Regions from separate parts of the Homo sapiens genome. Here region 1 is linked to region 2. The links come from fine-mapping of genetic effects on gene expression. Tissue or cell type: aorta. Region 2 holds a variant in brackets; the other region holds the start of a gene. All regions are shown on one strand. Distances are from middle to middle.

What was found. PIP is the estimated chance that this variant, and not a neighbour inherited with it, causes the effect.
Region 1: it holds the start of ASTN2, and the variant in region 2 is fine-mapped to the expression of ASTN2 in aorta (GTEx, PIP above 0.99).

Annotation. Positions count from the first base shown.
Region 1 is chr9:117,409,907-117,420,210 of GRCh38, forward strand. ASTN2 (astrotactin 2) reads right to left here and starts at 5,151. Exons shown (of 23, transcript NM_001365068.1): 1 at 4,591-5,151. The coding sequence starts at 5,032.
Region 2 is chr9:117,284,308-117,294,611 of GRCh38, forward strand. ASTN2 (astrotactin 2) reads right to left here. Exons shown (of 23, transcript NM_001365068.1): 2 at 7,019-7,206. Among named protein-coding and RNA genes, the nearest start is that of SNORA70C, 110 kb to the left of the region's middle. The variant C/A (reference allele first, on the strand shown) is at 5,564.

The sequences.
Region 1 (10,304 bases), 130 kb after region 2:
TGGCATTTCAAACCGTATCTTCCTCCTTCTTCCAGGCCATCAGCTTCTTGCATAAAGCAGCCTTTGGGATGGTCCTTTGGGACCCCGCCAGCTCTACGCATGCAGGTGTACTTAACACAGACTAATGAATAGCTTTTCTTTCTTCACACTCCCTCCCCCAAATACAGATCACACGCCTCTCCTGTCAGGTTGATATGGCAAAGCAAATTACTAAAAAATGTTGACAATGAGTGCTTATTCAATTTTATTGCTTTTTCCTGCTTTTGCTGAATCAAAGCAGGTAGTAAACAGTCTTGCCTGACCACTATCAAGCACAGCAAGAAGGATGACATTTCCCTACCTGTGGGCATGAAAGCTAAATCCACAAGCAGACCCCGGGGGCTGCCTGGAGGTAAGTGAGGACTGAATGACATACAGGTTCACCTTAGAAGCCCTGGGCTGGCAGTTGTTCCTGCTCAAATTCTTTCTTTTCTATCAGTCCTTCCCACCACCCTCATGTTACCAGTAAAGGAAAACAGACAGTACAAAGCAAGAGGAGCTATCAGAGTCATGGAGTAGGTCAGGGCACTTCAAGTTCATAGAATCTTTACACGAAAGGATTATTTTAGAGCTCATCTACCCACTCATATTGCAGCAGAAAGAATTGAAGCTCTGGGGGATAAATGACTTATTCAAGGTCACAGTGAGCCAAAGCTGAGATTTCCAGATCCTAACCAGCGTTAAATTTCTAAGCTGCATTTTAGCATTCCACTTTTCCTCATTTTGCCTATTAAATCCTCCAAGGCCTAGTTCAGGTTCTTTCTGGTCCAGAAAGTGCCCCCAGTCTTCTCCAATTCTACAGAGATGCCTTCCTTCCCTGATGCTACAGAATGTATCATCTCCATCACTCATTGGCACCAATAAATAAAATGCCCTTTGACATCCAAGAGTCATGAAACTTTGAGCTGGAAGGGTCATTGGATGTCATTTAACTCATATTTCAGTTTCAAACTTACATAGGTCAGCTCACCAAGGTAGCTGAAGTTCCTTTGGAGAAAAGCTCTTGTCTAACAATCTTGATGATTGTTATCCCTCTCTATTCAGCACCATAACCTGCATAAACTTCATATTTGGTTCAGAATACCAGTTTAGCAACCTACAAGAATGTAGGTGTCTGGCAGACCAGGATTCCAGTTCCAGGTCTGCCATTGATTCCTGGCATGACTTTGGATTACGCGTTTGACCTCTCTAAAAATACTTCCTCATCTGGCAAATGGGAGTAACAGTAGAGCCCACTCCATATATGTTATGTAAATTAATAATACAAGGCAGGAAGAAAGCTCTTAGCATCACATTAAGGATTCAATAACTATTTGCTATTCTTTGATCACTTTCAGGGAGATTCACTTTGTCAATGTCATTGACTTATAATCAGATTCTAAAGAAGAATCCCAGGCAAACAAACTTTGGAGATAGTTCACAACTGAAGGAAACTTCCATTTACTTAAGGCAGGCTGAAATTTGATAGGGAGACTAGAAATACAAAAAGGAAAGGATCTGCAAAAAAAAAAAAAAAAAAAAAAAAGACTTGCTTCCAGTCTGGGCATTACCAATAACAGAAACAAAAGAGGCAGAATGGAGGGAGCCAGGGTTAAATATGAAGGTGACCTTGGTGCACGCAGATGGGAGATAGTGCATGCAAAATTACCTTGAGGTCCCCCACTGGAGTTTGAATAAACTAAGAATTCTTCTTTTTGTTTGTCCCCCTTTAATACCAGGGATGGTTTACCACCACTAATTCTGGTCCCAGGACCCAAAGTGACCAGAGGGCTTTGGTGGACACCATCACCCCCTAGTGGTAGCTCCACACTCCCCACTATTGGCAGAGTTTGGCATTTACCAACTTTGCATGCTCAGCTGTGGCACTGGCCATGTCCGTATCCCCTGAACTGATAAGCTGATAGTGAAAGCTGCCCAACTCGCCAGAGACAAACGTTAGGCAGGATGTTTAAAAGTCTGGGGATGGGATGGGGCTGCCTTGGGACACTAGAAAGAGATGGCCATAAATGTCTCATAGTATCAGCCCCAACCCCACCCCTACCACCACCCCCACCTCACCCCTCCCCCCCCCAACCCCCAGCGGGCACCAACTCTCATTTCCGGCCAGCTAGGTCCTCCCAGAACTCATTGTGCACTCTGTGTTTACACACAAACAGTGGAAGACCAACACAAATAAAAATCCCACGTCTCCCTACACAGCTCCTGCTATACCCAGCCATCTGGTGACTACCTCGCTAGCCAAATCCCCGTTGAGAGCGCCTAAAGCTGCCAGCCCAGGGCGCTAGGGGGAAAAGGAGGAGGCAAGAACCCAATCCCCCGCATGCATCCAAAAGGCTCAGCGCTGCCAAGGAGGCCAGCCCCGTGCTCTCCAAGGGGCAGAGGGTCCCAAGCTGCCAGGCTCAGGGACCGTGCATCAGAGGAGGGGGAAGTCTCCATGTGCAGGTTGTTGCCAGGAGACTCTCAAGCAACACATGGGTCCTGGGGGAATCAAGACTTCTAATTCCTCGCTCAGGTCCTCACTCAGCTTGTCCCAGGCTCACAGGCACCCATCCTGTTTGAAAGCCAAAGTTAAAAATGGCAAAGATTGTCAGTTCCAGGAATCCCGGGGCACCTATACAGATGGTTGGAGCAGGTCCTCCATATCCTCGAAGACTTGAAATGCTCTGTGGTCCTCACTGCCAAGTCAGGCCATACCCAAGGACCGTCTCATCCCTTCACTTGAATGGCCGTTTGGGGGGCGGGAGGATTTCCACCCCTCATCTCTCAGAGTACCCCGGAGTAGAGAGATCTAAAGGATGAAGGGAGAAGGTCAGGAATGGAAGTGGTAGTGAAGGGATACCTTCTGTGTCTCTAGAAAGACCCTTCCCCACGGGGAGGTGGCAAGAGCCAGCTGTGAGCCTGAGGTTAGTCCGGCGGCGCTCTAAGGAACACCACCTCCACCCTCCTTCCCTTTCTCGGACATGGGCAGCCCCACAGGTGCACGTGGGAAGAGCTACTGGTTTGTGTGTGTCTGTGTGTGTGTGCTTGGTGCGTCGCACCCCAGAAGCGCCGCCGCGGGGAGTCCCCGAGGAACCTGCAGGACGCTCCGCTGCCTCTCCTCCCGGAACGCTCGGCACGCTCAGGTTACAGCCTGCGAGGGTGGGTACAGGGGCTCGACCCCCGAGGTTCAAGCTCAGAGCGGGAGAACCACTGGCACTCGCTCAAATCCCCAGAGGTGGTAGCATGAAAGGATGGGGAGTGGGTCACAAAAATACTTTTAACAATATCAGGGCTACCAGGAGAGTGGAGCGTAGTCCGCTGATTATTCTGTGGGTCTTTTCAGGCGAGCAAGGAGTTAACCTCGGAAGTTCAGGGATCGTAAAGGTTCTCACCTGGAAGGCCCCTCACCTGCGGTGCCCGAGGCGGATCCCGCCGAGGAAAAGACCCGGGGAAGAAGAGCTCCGGGTCTGGGCGAGCCCCTGGCGCCTCACGGGCGCTGTTGTTGGCCAGACTCCGACAACCAATAAGGCCCCGCGCCCCCAAGAGGGGAGGGGAGAGCGAGCAAGCAGCGAGCGCGGGAGAGCTAAGGGGAACAACATTTTTGTAAACGCTCTCCGAGATAATTAAGCTATCAATTACCCGGGTGGGAAATCAGCTGCGCTTCCCACAGCTCCACTGAAGGGCCGACTCCTCCGGGATTCGCGCAGGGAACCAGCAGGCAGCAAGCTGCTGGCGAACTTTTCTGATTAACTTTTCCGTTGGAGCCCCCCACCCACACCCATCTCCTCTCCTCTCCTTTTTCTTGCCTTTAAGTAATTATTATTAGCCCAGGGAGTGAGCTGCAAGGACAAACCGGCTCTCTGCCTGGAGGTGGGTAGAAAGGGAAGGCGGTAACGGGGGTAGAGGGAGGCTCTAAACGTGGAGACCTCGGAGTCGGAATCCCAGTTCTCAGCAACCACTCAAGTCTCTCCAGCCCTATTTCACAGATGGCCAGAACTGAGGCTCAGAGAAGGGAAGCGACTTGGCCAAGGTCACTCAGCCCATGCGGAAGCCACGCTTTTGCGGGTTGAGCGATTCCACACGGAACTACTCCATTCCTACTCTCATGAAAATCCATCTGGAAGGGCAGAACCCGCAACTCCGAGGCGAGAGCGAGGGGGCGGTGACGGCGGGTGGCCAGTGACGGTACCCGGAGAAGTGGGAGGCTCGACCTGAAACTGGCTTAGGATCTGGGATGCTCCGGCCCCTAGCCAGAGCACCTTCAGTGAATGGGGTCTCCGGCTTCCGGGATGGATCAAGCAGAGCTCCAGGTCGGGACTGAGAGGCAGAGGGGCAGGTTCCCACTGCGGGAGGGTTGGCACGCCCCCAGGCTCCCGCCGCGCGCTCTCCAGGACCTCCTCCCACATGCTCGTTTCCAACCACCTGTGCGACCTCTGGGCCCCTCCTCTACCCTCTGCCAACCCCACTCGGGGCAGCCCCGGGCAGGGATCCCCAGGGCGCCCCCACCCGTCCGGCATGACGCAGGGGCTCGGGGTTCCTTGGGATCTAGCGCGTGCCGGCGCCCAGCCTTACCCAGGGTGAAGAAGGGCAGCTCGGTGTTGTCCAGGTCGTCCTGCACCGCGATGCGCCCCGGCAGCTCGTTACGCACAAAGAGCAGGAGGCGCGACTCGGCGGCGGTGCCGGCAGAGCCAGGAGAGCCCGGGGACGCGGCGGCGGCGGCGGCTCCGGCCCCGGTCCCAGCCCCGGCCCCGGCGCGGGCGCCGCTCCAGCCGATGTCGCTCTCCCGCAGGGCGGGCAGTGTGGACACCGTGACGGTCTTCAGCCGGCACGGGCTGTCGGGCTCCCGCGAGGCAGCGGCGGTGGCGCCGGCCAGCAGCGGCGGCGGCGGCAGCAGGAGCAGGAACAGCAGCAGCAGCGGCAGCAGTGGCGGCGGCCCCGGGTGGAAGCAGAGCCTCGGCCGCCCCCGGAGCCCCGAGCCGGGGCCGGGGCTGAGCCGGGCGCCGGCGGCGGCCATGGCGGGAGGGGCTGCGGTGCTGCGGGCGGCGGCGGCGGTGGCGGCGGTGGCGAAGGAGGAAGAGGAGGCAGCTGCGGAGACGGCGGACGCCGAAGCGAACCAGGACGCCCGAGCTAAGGAGCGGAGAGAGCCGCTCGCCAGCAGCCCCCAGCTCCGGGCTCCGCCTCCCGATCGGCCCTGGACCGCCCCCCCGCGCCGCCTCCCGGGGCCCAGCCGCCCGTCCCCGATCTCCGGCTCCCCCCGCAGACCCCGAGCGTTTCGGAGGCTCCGCCCGGCCTCGTGCAAGTCCCAGTGGCTCCCTCCCCTTTCCCAAGATCCCCCAATTCCGCCCTCACAGCATTCTTTAGCCACAACACCCCTCCCTAAACTCCCCAAATTCCTAATACTTAGGGCCCCCTCGGGCCCCCCCAAGCCCCCCTGACTCAACCCAGTTCTCCTGGCTTCACCCCACCTTCGGCTCAACCCAGAGGCTGCACCTGGGGGCGCGCCTTGGCCCAGCCTTGCTCAAGGCCCCGCCTTCTTGGGGATAGGGAGCCCCCTGGATAGCCAAGACTTAACTTTGTCTCCCCTCAGGCCCAAGAACAAGTCCTTTCTCCAATCTCCTACCCTTTTCTAGTCTCTGAAATAACTTCCTGTAGCCTCAGAGCCCCCTTCCCACCCACTTGGCCACAACTCCTGCATTCATTCTCCCACTGCCCGCAAACCTTCCTCTCCCCTCCATCCAGGCCTTGTGCTAGCACTAATTGCTAATGGACAGAGGGGCGTCGAACTCCACCGTCTAACGCCGACCCCACAACTGACTGAAGCCGGGCTGTTCTGGCCCCCTAGCTGCCGCCCTGCAAGCCAGCCCACTCACGCTTTTTTATTTTGGATCCCTGCTCCCAGCTTGGAGCAGCTCTACTTGGCTGCTTCTGCTCTCTGTGTGAAATTCCTGAAAAGGGTGTGAGGTAGAGACCTACTATTCTGTCTGTCCTTGGCTCCCGGGTCTTTTAGATCCTCTGCCCAAGTCCCAGAGAACGGGAGTGCTCACCAATTCTTCACCTGCAGTCTTTCTAGACTCAAGTTGAGCTAGGTCCTCAGATTCAGCACCCTTTGGTCTTGGGCTGACTCTGTCTCTGACCCACATACCTGAGACCCTCCAGGGAGCGGACACCTCTGCATGGGTCAAGTGCCGTGCAGCCCCTTCCCCACTCCCCTACTTTTCTTCATCTTCCCTGTCTCTGTTTTCTGTTTCATCTCTCCATTCATTTCCTTCCTTCTCATCTTGACTTTAATCTTACAAATGCTTCTTTCCTATAATTTGTGAGCAACTTCTCATCTCTGTCTAGCTTACCCATCTGCACCTTTTGTGCTGTCTCTATGCATTCACTTTTCTCTTAGCTCTTCCCTCTTCTGTCTCATTCCCCTTTTCTATCTTTAACCCTTCATATAAATTGCTTTTCTCCTCTCTCATCATATATTTTTTAATAACGTTGGATAAAGGCAGAGCACTGAAAATAAGGAAAAAAGCAAAAGCTGTTTTGCGACCTTGGACTTAATGTGTTTAAAGCATTCTCCAAATGCTAGACATGTACGTATGTTAGCTTTTTTACATGACCATAATCCAAAAAGATGGATATTATGATTCCCATTTTCCATGTGAGGAAACTGAGATCAGGTGGTCAGGGAGGTGAAGGGATTTTCCAAGGTCGTATAGCAAATGAGCTGAAGAGCTGAGGTTTGAACAGTAGGCTTCAAGCCTTGACTGTTTCCCTTAAATTACACTGTCCTCAGTGACCTTGGAAAACCCCACCCATCAAAGATGCTGTAAAAGGTAAATCTGCATAAGCACAGTTGGATCTACTTCCCTGTGAGGTTTGTAAGGTATACTTCTCCTGTCTCAGTTTACTAATCTGTGAACCCAAAGGATGTGTGGAGGTTGGGGTGGAATCTGGCCTTTCAAGTCCTCTAATTCTAAATGGTCTCCTGCCTCTCTGATGCCTGCTCTAGTTCATTTACTCCTCCAAAATATGTCACCCTGCCTCCCTCAGTCTCTCCTTTGTGTCCTTACAATCCGCCACTATCCACCGCAATGGGGCTTTCTGATTCTCTATGCCCCTTTCTTCAAATATGCTGACATAGTCCATTTACAGAAGAGCACACCAGGAAAAAAGGGCTCCCTTATGTAAGGCAGAGTCTGTGCAAGTCCTTCATGGACCTCTAGTACAAAGGCCTGTCAAATGAGACCAACACTTTCATTCATTCATTCATTCATCACCAAATATTCAGGGTGCCTACCAGGTGCTATATGGAGATGCAGGGATGGATAAACACAACTCCTGCCTTTGGAAAGCTTATAATGATTGGGGTGAGGGGGTGGGATGCCGGAAAGAGACAGGCACATAAATATCTCAGGTAATGGGCAGGCAGGCAGACATGTGTTTCCTAAGATGAGGTACTTGGAGAAATCAAAGAAAGCTTCCCAGAGGCGGTGGCTTTGGAATTGAACCATAAAGATTAGTAACAAGGGAGTGGGCATTCTAGGTTAAAGTTGGCATTTGGCATTCTTTGCAACTGCTTAGTAAATGAATAAATCCCTTTCCTACATCAGAGAATGTTTTATCTTTTAAGGCACAGCCCACCTCCCATGAAGAAGCTAACATTTCTGGATACTTTCTCAGCCTCCACTGCAGCTAGAGCTTGGGCACATGACCCAGGCTTCACCAGTTAGATTCACCCACCCCAGATGCTGAAAAATAAGCCGGAATCAGGCAGAATCCAGTGGCGGCTAAAAGGGCAATAGTTGGGGCAGTTACATCCAGGTGTCTCTGCTAGTCGAAAAGGTTCTAATAGCACTGTTTGGAGCCCAGTGATATCAATGTCAACAGTGTGAAGTGCCTTTTATTTATGCTTGGCTGCAGCTGAAACATATCTTCACCCATACAGTTCTGTGCTATGATTTGGAGTGGTGCTCTTGACTTCATGCACTTTAAACCCAGATCCCATGCCTTTCTGGAGATTCTAAGGAATCTAATAATCACTTAACTGAATTCTGAATTCTCTTTCTGCTTAAATTATTCAGGATTGCTTTCTGTTGCTTGCAACTGAAACACCTGGCTGAGAACACAGAATGTGGAAACAAAGGGAGGGCAGAGACAGCAAGGTGTATGATGGGAAATGAAGCTCAGTGAGGGGGAGAGGGAGTAACTGAAGACAAGACAGAAAAGGCAGACAAGGAGTACCAACTTTATATCACAGACAGTGTCAAATCTGGAATGTCCACAGGAAATGACTTATACTTCTGAACACATGCTCTGTGATCCAAAACTTTTTGTAGCATATCAATGAATGATGATAACAACTGTTGCCTTATGGTGGTTGTGAGGCTTTAGAAATAATTATACAAAGCATTTAACACATAATAGCTGCTCAATAAATTATAACTACTGCTTTGATGTATAATCTCAGCAACATTTGGAGCAAGGCTTTTTATCCCTATTTTATAGGTATGAAATCGGAGGCTCAGGGAAGCTGAGAAACTTGATTTTGGTCATGGAGTTATCAAGTGGTGAAATACAAGAATGCCTGGCTCCCAAATCTTTGCTCTGTCTGTCACAGAATGCCCCTCCTGGCCTCAGCCCTTTGCATGCAACTTATTCCCAGTATACTATAACTTCCCTACTCATACTCGAGTCCCCTGTCCTATGACCACCACTTTTCTCCCTCTCAGCCCCTCACACTCCTTCTCCTTTCCCCTCTTTGTTCAGTTATATTTCATTATTGATTCAATTCTTTCTCTTTTACAGTCCCCTGTACTCCCATCTTTGACTCCACTGATACAAAATTTTTTTCATTCTAACTCCTTTCCAGTCTTTCTAGCAAATACTTCCTCTTCTTTCATCTTTCATATTTGCCTTTCTAGGTAGTTTTGAAATATTTTTTCTTTCCTGCTTCCCCCTTCTCCATACTCTACTCTGTTTTAAAAATCCCTTGTATTTATGCCACCTGACTGAGGCATCCTAATGTAGTTGAAAAAGCCAGAGGCCCAAGAGGCTGGTTGATTTTCGTTTAGAAATCATCTTTGCTATTTCTCTATGGAGTCAAGTCACTTTATAGTTCCTACTAGGTCTTTTCTTTTCTCATTTGTGAAATGGGGAAAGTAGTACCCACTTCTCAGGATCACTGTGTGAATTAAATGAGATGATGTGTATGAAACTGTCTAGCACATATGAGGCTCTCTTGAATGTTGTAAGTAAATCCAATCATCTTACGGATCTCACCCACTGTTTTCCACTCCAGCCTCATGTCCCATAATCCCCACCACCACCACTTGATTCCAACCATATTGATCTCTTTTCTGTTCCCGAAATACTTCAAGCTCTTGTTGCCCCAGCATCTTCAAACGGACTCTTTCTTCTGCCTGGAGAGACCTCCCTCCGTCTTCACTAGCTATCTTTTGCTAGTCTATAAGTTTTGCTAATCAAAGCACTTTCCCTAACGTGACCACCCACCCAGCCTAAGTTAGCCTCTTGCTGTACTTTCTGTTACATCCTTTCATATTTCTTTATAACCATTTTAATTGTACTCATTCCATATTTCAATAATTGTCCATTTATTAGAGCATTTTCTTGGTGCGTATGTTCCTTACTAGATTGGGAGCTGCCAGATATCAAAGACCAACTATGTCTTGCTTACCGCAGTGTGCACACCAGCTAGTACAGTAACCTACATAGGGTAGAGATGCAAAATAAGTATTTTGCCAATGAACCATCACATATTTATTGAATTTTTACTGAGACAGGCACTGTTTTCGCATTAGCTGCACTTTCACAGAGAATATAATTTAAATTTTACAACAAAAACCTTCCCCCATCCTCCGTCTGTCAATTCTTCCTTCCCTTCTTCCTTTCCTTTCCTTCTTTCCTTCCATCCTCCCTTCTCAGCTTCCCATGATTCAAGTAATTCTTTTTAACAGTCTTTCTTCTTAAGCCTCCAGATGATCTCTAGAACATAAATAAACTCTAATTGAGGAAAAGAGAGTGCCATCTTCTGCTCCATCTCTGCTCTATCTAAGCTCAATCTTCCATCAATCCTTTTCCTGTCCACGAATCTCCACCATTTGTTTTCTCTTGTTCAATCACTGCCTTCTCCGTAACTCATATTGTCCTTTTAATCGTGCTTTGCTCTCTGCAGCATGTTGACTCCATTTATCACTCAGCGTATCCCATTTCTCTTCATTCCCTTCAGTCACCTTGCTCTAGACACTCTCTTGACCTGAGTTCTGCCAACCTCT
Region 2 (10,304 bases):
TTACCCAGGCTGGTCTCAAACTCCTGAGCTCAGGTGATACACCCATCTCGGCCTTTCAAAGCGGTAGGATTACAGGCTTCAGCCACCGCACCTGGCCTCTGGTGTCCTCATAAAAGGGGGAGAATTGGGGCATAGAGACAGACATCACATGGGCAGAATGCCATGTGAAGATGGAGTTCTGCTGCCATAAGCCAAGGCACTACCAGAACCTAGAAGGAAAGCCTGGAGCAGATCTTTCCCTGGTGCCTTCAGAAGGTGCATGGTCTCACAGATATCTTGATTTTAAACTTCCGGCCTCCAGGATTGTGAGATAATAAATGTCTGTCTTTTAAGCCACTCAGTTTGTGGTACTTTGTTATTGCAAACTAGGAAGCTAATGCACTTATAAGTAGCAGAGTAATGACATTTATAGAACCAGGGCTGTGTGTCAGGCTCCAGCATATGTGCTTTATATCTATCATCTCTGATGATTCTCACAACAGCCCCTCTTTAGACAGGTAATTCCATCAGAGAAAGTACATGCTCAAATCCCACTACTACCAAGTCAGTTATGGAGCCAGAATGTGAACCTCAGAACACACAGAGTCACAGGTCTTACAAGTTAGTTATACTTCCTGTGCTTATTTTCTCAACAGTAGAGCAGGAGTAATAATATCTATTGAGATTACTGTAAGAATTTAATGAGTTAAATACATGTCAAGTACAATCACACTAAGCACTGTAAAAGTGCTTGTTAGCATTATTAAGATTCTTCAATGTCTTGATTACTCAGTTATTATTTCTACTCAGTTACTGTTTCTCTTAAGATATGGCCCCAAAAATAAACACAATATTTCAGTTCTCGCCCAGTACCTCTAGAATTATTTGTTCAGAAACCTAGCCTTTTATTAATTCAACTTAAAATATAAGACCACTTTCAGCAATGAGACCCCATAGTTGGCTCAATCTGAGCTGGTGGCTGATTTTGTAAAAAGCTTTTTTTTTTTTTTTTCTATCTCTTTTTTTTCTAGCAGATAGGCTTTTCATTGCTAGATTTAATAGGCAGGTAAACCATTCCATGATTGAATGATTAAATCAATGAATGAAGGAATATGCTATGAATGAAAAAACGTCACGGTTGGAGCAATGATATAAAGCCATCTTTTACAGAAACCTTTAAAAAGTGTTATCCCAATATCACACCGATCCTCTAAACAAAGCTACTGAATAAGAATGGTAGTAATAATTTCTTAGATTTGTGTGACATTTTATATTCCTCAAAGTATTATTCTATGTTATTATATCACAGAGTCATAGATCATCTAAATTGGAGGCAACTACAATAGTCATCTAATTTAACTATTATTCCTCTCTAAACCCCAGTGACTTTGCCTGCACAAACTCAGGGAGAAGAAACCCACAACTTCTTGATTCGGCCTACTCCACCGATGGATAGCTCAGACACTTTGAAGTGTTTGTCCTGTCGTGCATGAGAATTTTGACCTCTTGGAATCCTGAATCCTCCCTCATTGGAGGCCAGCAATACAAATCCGTGGCATTTTCTTTGGGATGATCCTTCTGAGAGAAACATGCCCTCAAAATTCTTTTCTTCTCCTACATCAAACCAAACATTTCTTTTCATCCCCTTTCTCAAAACATTTTGTCACCACAAAGACAAAAGGGAAAAAACAAAAGCGCCAAGATAAAACATATTGGTCTCAAACAGTTTCTATCTAGTAACTCTTGTGGAAATCTTTAAAACAAGACACATCACATTAAAATGAAATTATATTTCTCACTGTTAAAAAGGGGGAGAGGAGGAAAGAGTAGAATTATATGACCAACCCTCTGAACCACAAGTGATAACTATTTTTGTTGAAAGCAACTTTGATCTATGCAAAAGTGAAATATATATTGAAATGCCAATGTGACAATGGCAATGGCAACAAAAAGCAAAATGAAAAAAACAAATAAATGCAAAAAAGAAACAAGAAGTTGTGATCACATCTGCTAGGACCTATTGCATTTCCTCATGCCTGCGTGAAGCAGATAAACTCTTCCCACTTTCTTTTTTTTTTTTTTTTGAGCAGAGTCTCACTCTGTTGCCCAGGCTGGAGTCCAGTGGCGTGATCCTGGCTCACTGCAAGCTCCGCCTCCTGCCTGCAAGCAGGCAGATCACGAGGTCCGGAGATCAAGACAATCCTGGCTTCCCACTTTCTAAATAAGGATACCAACACTAAAAGAACCTCTTTCTTTATCCTGCAAGTTTGCATATGTAGATCACAAACTTAGCTGGCAAATAGTTAGGGGCCCATAATAGCTTGTTCTGATAAACAATGTAAAGTGCACCCCAGGATTCAAGCCATGGTTTTCCTCTGACTTTGCACCTGTAGTCAAATCACTCAGCCTGCTTTGGATTTCTTTTCTCCTATCTATAAAATGCTGGCATGAGCAACTCCTCTCCCTAACTGACAAGTTTCCAATTTCTATCAAATGTTTTGTGCACCTGGAGTGAATACTCTATAAAATAACAGACATGATAACCCTCACTATAGCTAACATTTTAATAACGGCTACTGCTTTTTGAGCACTTACAGAATGTCAGGCACTGTGCCATGCAGAACTGTGCCCAAGCACACAGACTCTCAGTTTGGACAGACCAGAGTTAGAATCTCAACTTCAGCACTTATTGGTGATGTGGATGGGCAAGATGCAAAAATCCCACTAACTCCTAAGCCCTCATCTGTAAATGAAGGGCAACAACATTACTTATCATATAGAGGCATTGGAACAATTAGATGAAATAATAGAGGTGCTGCACTTAGTGCCTGGCATACAGAAAGTTCTCAGTGGTGGCAGTCATTATTTTCATTGTGCAGGGCATTTGTGAGTGTGATCTCATTCCGTGCCTAGAAAAAAAATCTCTAAGTATTGGGGAATATTATTCCAGTTTTACAAATGATGAAGGTAACTTGGCCAAGGACACAAAGGTAGTGATAGAGACATTATTCAACCATGGAGTTGATTTCCAAGTCATAAACCCTCATAAAATACCCATGGATTCCACATAGGGTACAGTCTTCGTAAGAATTCACTCATGAAATCTTATCAATTTAAATCAACAACGGATGCATAGAGAAGGAAAATGGTGGCCTGTTATATAGATTAAGGGCATAGTTTCTGAAACCAGCTTATATAGAGTGAAAAATTGGGTTTGCCACTTAACCTTTGTGTGATCAATGTCACGTAGATAGGTATTTATTAACATTTCAGATTCCTCATGTGAGGGACAGTATCCATCTTAAGGTTTGTTGTGAGGATTGAAAGTGATAATATGCAGAGAACAAAATTTGGAACACTGCCTGGCATACAGTAAATACTCAAAATAAATGTCAGGTATTATGATTATTTCTCTAGATCAGGCAGCAAAATAGCAGCAAATATAAGACTAAAGCCAATGTCTTTTTACTCCTAAGTTGAAGTCCTTTAAACATTGCTTCAATGACAATATTAATAGCCATTTGTGACTATGCACTCAGTATGTGCCAGCCTGGGTATTAGGCACCATTGTATGTTTTTTCCACTCTTTTCTCCACTCTTTTCAATAATTTTTCTCCACTCTTTTCAATAATTCTGTGAGATTGGTATGATCAGTTTTGTTTCATACATAAGGAAACTGAGGCTCAGAGGCATGAAGGGATGTGCCTAACGTAAAATTACCAGGAAGCAGGAAGTAGAAGAGACTATATTCAGAGCCAGGTCTGCTGAATTCCATCGCTCTGCTTTTTTTCTCTGCATCCTGCCACCTGCACAGCTGAGGAGGGTATGCTGAAGCTGAGGCAGAGGACAAGAGGAGATGACTGTTTACTCTCACTTTCTGGACTAGGTTCAGAGTACTTCCTTGCTGCATCACCTTTTGTGATATTAATATTCAGATGATGCAACCTTTGGGACAAGGTAGATGCTCGACTCTAGCCTTCACAAGCCTACAAAGCATGATGGCTCCACCCCAGGAGGCATGGATGGTAGCAGGTTCCAGTGGCTGAATGGGAGCTGGTTTCCCTGCATGGGTGAGCAGGATATCTGTGCTGTCAAAAGGGGATGGAGTGCATAGACCCTAGCCTCCAGACTTCTTTGAGATTTGACTAGAAGATTTGGGTCTTCTCACAAACCACCTTGGATCTTCACCAAAGATGAAAACAATAGTGTATCCAGCAGGGTCAGGGCCATGATGTCATGAATTGCCAGACACAAGTTTTAATCCTGGGGAAATCCTGGCCCCAGAACTGCCTTTTTGTTAGCCCAGGAGACTTAGACAAATCAATTAAACTCATGAATCTCAGATTTCTCAGTTGTGAAATGGGGAGACAGATCCCAGCCATCTTAAATGTAAACACTCTTTTTGTTCTTGCTGCATTGTCTGTGGCCAGAATGACAAGGGTAGAGTCTGAGCCACAGAGAGGCCTGACCTCCAGGCCAAGCCCTGCTGACTGACTGAGGGATCTTAGACAAGTCCTAGCCTGTCCCAGACCTCAGTATCCAACTATGGAATAAAAGGGTATAATAAATCAGCACATCTCAAGTTTTTCAACTAAACTGCCCCTATTAACAAAAGCAAATACCCTTAAGTGCCAAGCTCCTCTGATCTGAGGACTTGTTGTGTCTACATAACTATTAGTATAATCCTTGTTCTATAAATGACAAAAACAAGACAAAGGGCTCATACCCGAGTTCAGTGTCAGAGAGAGACCTCAAGTCTGTGCTCCAAGTCTGTGCTTATGGCTGTCTTCCTACCTCTAGAGAGAGCAGTGTTATTGGCATGCCCCACCTCTCAGAGGAAGAACACCCTGGGGTTCAGTGTCTCCAAGACATGACTCTGTTCCCTGAGGGGAGGGCAGGGACAGGAGAGATCCAGATTATGGAGCCCTGAATGGGGGAAGGAACTTTGGACCACACGGTGGTAGCCTTGGGTCACTTTGGCTCATGGGTGGGGAGGGTCTGAAGGGTGCCAGCTTCCACGTTACCTACTCTGCCAGCCAAATCTGGAACTACAGGGAATTTCAGTGACATCTGGGTCTTAGTGAGTTATTATTTCGAAGCTGAACTCACTGAGCAAAAGGGAAAGTTGAGGAAAACCTACCATCCTGGGGAGAAAGTCTGATTCAGTGAAACTAACACTGGACCTGGAAGCAAAAAAGACACATTGGAGGCTCATTTATAATTGAGATAATACTATCCAGGTTACTGGGTTACAAGAAGGATACATGCAAGTAAATGTGCTGAAACACAGAAAATGTTTAATGAACATTGGTCAAAATTGAGTCTCACTCTCAAATGTTAAAGGAAGAAGAGCATTCACACCCCTCCGCCTCTTCCTAACATTAGATGGTGTCCCACACCCCATGAGGAACTCAGCAAGTGCCCTGAGATGGTGCTTATAAATTTGCACCCCAAACTTAGCATGCAGGCACCCACTTGCTTGGTGTGAGGCTGCATCATTTGCTAAATATACATATGGAAAAAGTCTATCACACTCATTCCATGAATAACACAAAGGCCTTGATTTGTTCCTCCACGTGATGAG[C/A]ATGCGTAAGGTCCAAAATTAACATTGCTGTCTGGCTGGGGAGTGTATGTGTTTTTCCAAAAAGAGAAAACTTCTAAGATCTTACTCAGCCCTAATCAGAATGTCTAATGCACAGTGTTCGTTGAAGAGAAACGAGAAAGAGACTAAAACTAAAGGTCGCTCCGTTGTGGAGTCTCAAAAAATACTGCTGATTGTTAAATTGAAGGAAGCAATGAGGGTTGAGAGGTAGCTCTGCTCTGCTGAGTGGCTTTATGCCAATCACTTCACCCCTCTGGGCCATAGCCTCCTCATATGTATGTTGGAGATACCATTTCCTAACCTTGGGTATCTGGCAGAGCCGTACTAAAGAAGAAAAGGAGAAGTGAATGTAAGAGGGGCTTTGAGGAATATAAAGCATCAGAAAGATGTGAAGTTTCTTCCTGAGCCCATTAGACTCTGTGCTTTCTACCTACTGGATTTATTTTCTGGTTTTGTTTTTCTATCTACCATGCAATGCCAATAAATATAGCTTTTTAAAGAAAGCATATAATATAAGCCCAGATACTTTTAGACTACCACTCAAGTGATTCCAGCCCTAGTAACCTTCTGGGTGGAGGCAGCAGACTCAGAGTTCTGTATCATGGGGCCAACAGAGCTGAACAGCCACATCCTCTCTCTGCAAACATGTGGAGGTGATTCGCTGGACCTCATCCATTCTTGGCAAGAGCACAATGAGATAATTTCCATACATGTATCCAGTATAGTGCTTAACAAATGGTAGATACTCAAGAAATTCTTGAATTGAGAGAAAACAGGGTGTACAGGACATAGTTCAGGCTTAGTAGCCAGATATGCTTGGATTTGAACACTCAAGAGTAGTTCCATCATTCGCTGGCTATGTGATCTTAGGTAAGTTTCTTTGCCCCTCAGCCACAGTATTCACAACTATAAAGAGAATTATGGAGGGGCTTCTGTGGACCCCCACAATGGCTACGTCCAGCCCAGCTACAAGGGCCACCATGCAGTTGTTGCAAGGGTTAAAACACCTGACACATCAAGGGTACTTAGGAAAAGGCAGCCTGTTCTGGTTTTATTCCAATTTTGTTTGTTCAGTCATTCTTGGAATGGCCAGTTGTATTCTGAATCACCAAACCTCAGCCCTCAGCAAAGCAGGCCAAGCACATGACAGATGTTAAACAGCTATTCCCAGAGATGTCAGCCAAAAGGCCGAGGAGTTGGAGACCCTTTATTTTCTTCTCTGAAGCACAATTAGTTTGTCACAGCTGACAGATGATGGATGGGTATGCATCAGTCCAAGTGACATCACAGAATCCATCTGATTTTCTGTTTCTCATTCTAACCTCTTGAGTTTGGTTCTTTCCTTCCATCTGTGGACAATCCCCCGCCCCCTCCATCTCTCCACCCATTCCTCCCCCACGCAATCCCCGACCCCGGTCACATCCCCCCATCACTCACCATCACAGAAATGTGGAGGATGTGCATCTGCTCCTCAACAATCTCCGAGGGCTCCTGGAGAGTGGGGGCGGTGGCTTGGGCCAGCTGCCCGGAGCTGCTCATGGAGACGTGGAAGTACAAGGTGCCATTCTCCAGCCACTGCTGTCTCCAGTGCACCAGCGAGATGTCCGCTGCTGTGCCAGACATCTCTGCAAGACAAGACCCGAGGCACTGGGTGAGCCGTACGCCTGGCCTTGGTGCTCCAGGGAGGAAAAGAGCCCACATAATCAGGAGCTCAGAAGGCATCCATTTTTTGCCAGGATACCTTTCCTCACATCAAGTCTATGAGATAGGGATCATCACTTTCATTTATAGATGAGTCAACTGTGACCAAGATTCACCTAAAGTAACAGAGTAGTGGAAGCAGGGTTTGCACCCACATCTGTCTGAGGCCGTTTTTAGTACATCACATGTGATCAGGTAATTCATTCTACTCTGATAGTGGAATGAAACTAAGGATAAAAGTGCTTTCATTCTTTTGTGGCTATGGAACTAGAAGAAGATGAAGGAAAGAAATCCATGAAAGGAGTGGGAGTTGAGAGTGTGGATTCTTTAGAAGTTGAGCTGGAAGTACTCATGGCCAAACCTCGGAGCCAGAAAGGCCCAAGAGAGCACCAACTCAGCTGAGGTAGCTCAGGGTCATCTTGCATGGGAAAGGAGCTTGCCAAGAGGGTTGCCCTGAGCGTGTTCCTCTTGCTTCCACAAGAGCAGCTCCATTTTTTGTAAGGTATATACTGCACTCCCAAGCAAGGAAATGTTGGCATAAAGTTTCCTTGGCTTAAAAATACTGGCAAAGCTACTGCCCCATCCCAACGTTCTCATATAGCCAGTGAGGAGTGAGGACTTTCTAGTAAATTGTAAAATTCAATCTCCCAACTTGAAGTTTCTAACTCTTATCTCTATGCTGGTTTTCCTTCTGTAAATACTTTTAAAGTGATTATCATTTGAATAGTATTTTTGTTCAATGTATCATACCTTTTTATTAGTAAAAAAGGGTCATGGCATAAGATGATGAAAGTGTCATTGCAAGGGGATTGTACAATTGTTCCAAAGTCCCCTTGACTAAAGGTGTATGTGCCTGCAAATGTCCTAGAAAGACAAGGCCTATCAGTGAATCTTATGCATGAATACAAGAGAAGGGTGGTGGATTTCTTGGAGGATTATTAGGTCTGCATTCAAGGGAGACAAACAGGAGACAAATAGCCTTTATAATGTCCATCAGTAGACAAGTAGTCTTAGTGGTGCTAGAGGCTTAGAACCTTGACCCCTCCCTCCTGAGACAGCTATGACCTTGAGGCAGTATTCCTACAGTCTCCAAAGACCTCGAGTGCATTCACACACACACACAAACACACACACACGAGGAGAGCTGATAGGCAAGCTGAGTTACAGCAACTTATCCAATCAGCTCTCTCCATGTCCCACTGCAGCACCCATCATATCTGATGACACGGAATGAAAAAGAATCAACTTGAAAAGAAGAGGAGATGATACTACCAAATCACTTACTCATCACCCAATTCCACTGAACTATTCTTATATCATCAATGCCCAATAGACTCTCCCTCCTTGAGGTTCACAATCAAAAATCCTTAGGAGAAGAGTGTTTAGCACTTAATAAGGGCTAAAAAATGTTAGCTACGAATTTTTAAGTTAGATATTGATTTATCATCATCATCATCATTATTGATAGGAACAGGATCTAATTCATCCTTCAGCTGCTCTGAAAAAAAAGAAAAAAAACAACAAACAAACCATGAGCCATCCTTGACAGCTTGCTTTCTCTCCCACTCCTCATTCAGTTCATCAGAAAATCCTTCCAAAGTCATCCAACATTCAACCCTTTGCAGTCCCTCTACATCAGCCACATGGGACAAGGCGTCATGCTGTCTTGCCTGGCTTACTGCAAGGACTCCTTAACTTGACTCTCTTCTTCCACCCTTGTCCATTCTATTCTCAGCCAGGAGCCAGAGGAATCCTGCCAAGCAAAAGTCATCTCACATCACTAAGCCCTCCATTTACAGTCTTTGCATGGCCTCCTACTCATTCCAAGTAAAAGACAAAGTGGTGAGAACATAGTAAGTTATTAGGCCAAGCAAACACATGCTTGGGCTTCCCTTGCAGCTGGAAGAGTTGAACAGGCCTTGAGATAATCACGAAGGTTTGTCAGCACTTAGAGCACAGGCCCCAAAGGCCCTGAGAACCCATTGTCGTTCTGGGGAGGGGCTGATTGGGTGATCAATTTGAGTGGTAGGTCTCCTCTCAGCACCTTCTCTTCATCCCAGGCTGGGGTGATCTGCTGCCCCACTGACCCCCTCCCAGCCTTAGCACCCAAGGCCTTGGCAGTAGCTTCTCTGGCAGACAGCCAGCTGGGCCAAGGCAAGGTGAAGACATTATGGTAAATGGTCTGGCTCATTTTTCTCTCAGTGCATCAAAGCCTAAAACCAGAGGTCCAGGGAACCCAGGGCTGAAAGCTGCACTAGAAATAGCAGTGTCTAATTCAGTAGTTCCATGTGCTGCTGGCTAGGCAGGCACTCCACGTGCTGAGAGTCCCTGGAATGGCACCAGAAGAAAGCTCCAAGGTAGGCTACATCTGGTTGACACAGCCTGGCACAGTTGAAGGCGGAGCGAGCAGAGGGATGCTTGTGGAAATCTGAGCTCCTTGCTCCTAGCACTCTCTCCAGCCTGTGCCTGAAATCCCACTATTAAAGAGGCTTCCCCTTTCCATGTTCAGATGAGAAAGCAGAAGGTCTCAGAAGGTTAGTGACTTAAGTTCACTGGTGAATTTGTACCTAGCTAGAACCAGTGGATTTCCAGTCCATGCAATTTCTACTATGCCAGTTGCACTTACATCTCCTTTCTCTTGACTAAATTAGCCCATGAACCAAAACTAGATTGAGCTCTTTGTTTGCTACAGCGATGAGTGCACAATCAGCAGACAGTAAACGTTAAATGATAATAACAGTGTGTGAAACACAGTAAATATTGAATCACAGAGAATAACTCCGGACTTACTTTATTACAAAGAAAAGAAACTGTTGTTGAAGAGGAGAGAGGAGGGGTATGAAATGTTAAAGGGAAAAATGCTTTAGCAGAAGCAGAAGGCCTCGATCATTCATTCACTCATTATTCATTTATTCATGCATTTGTTTATTTATTCAACATACTTATCAAACACCTACTCAATCCCAGGCAGCTCAATAGCTCAGAACACGGAGTTAAATGAGACATAGCCTTGCCTTCAGGG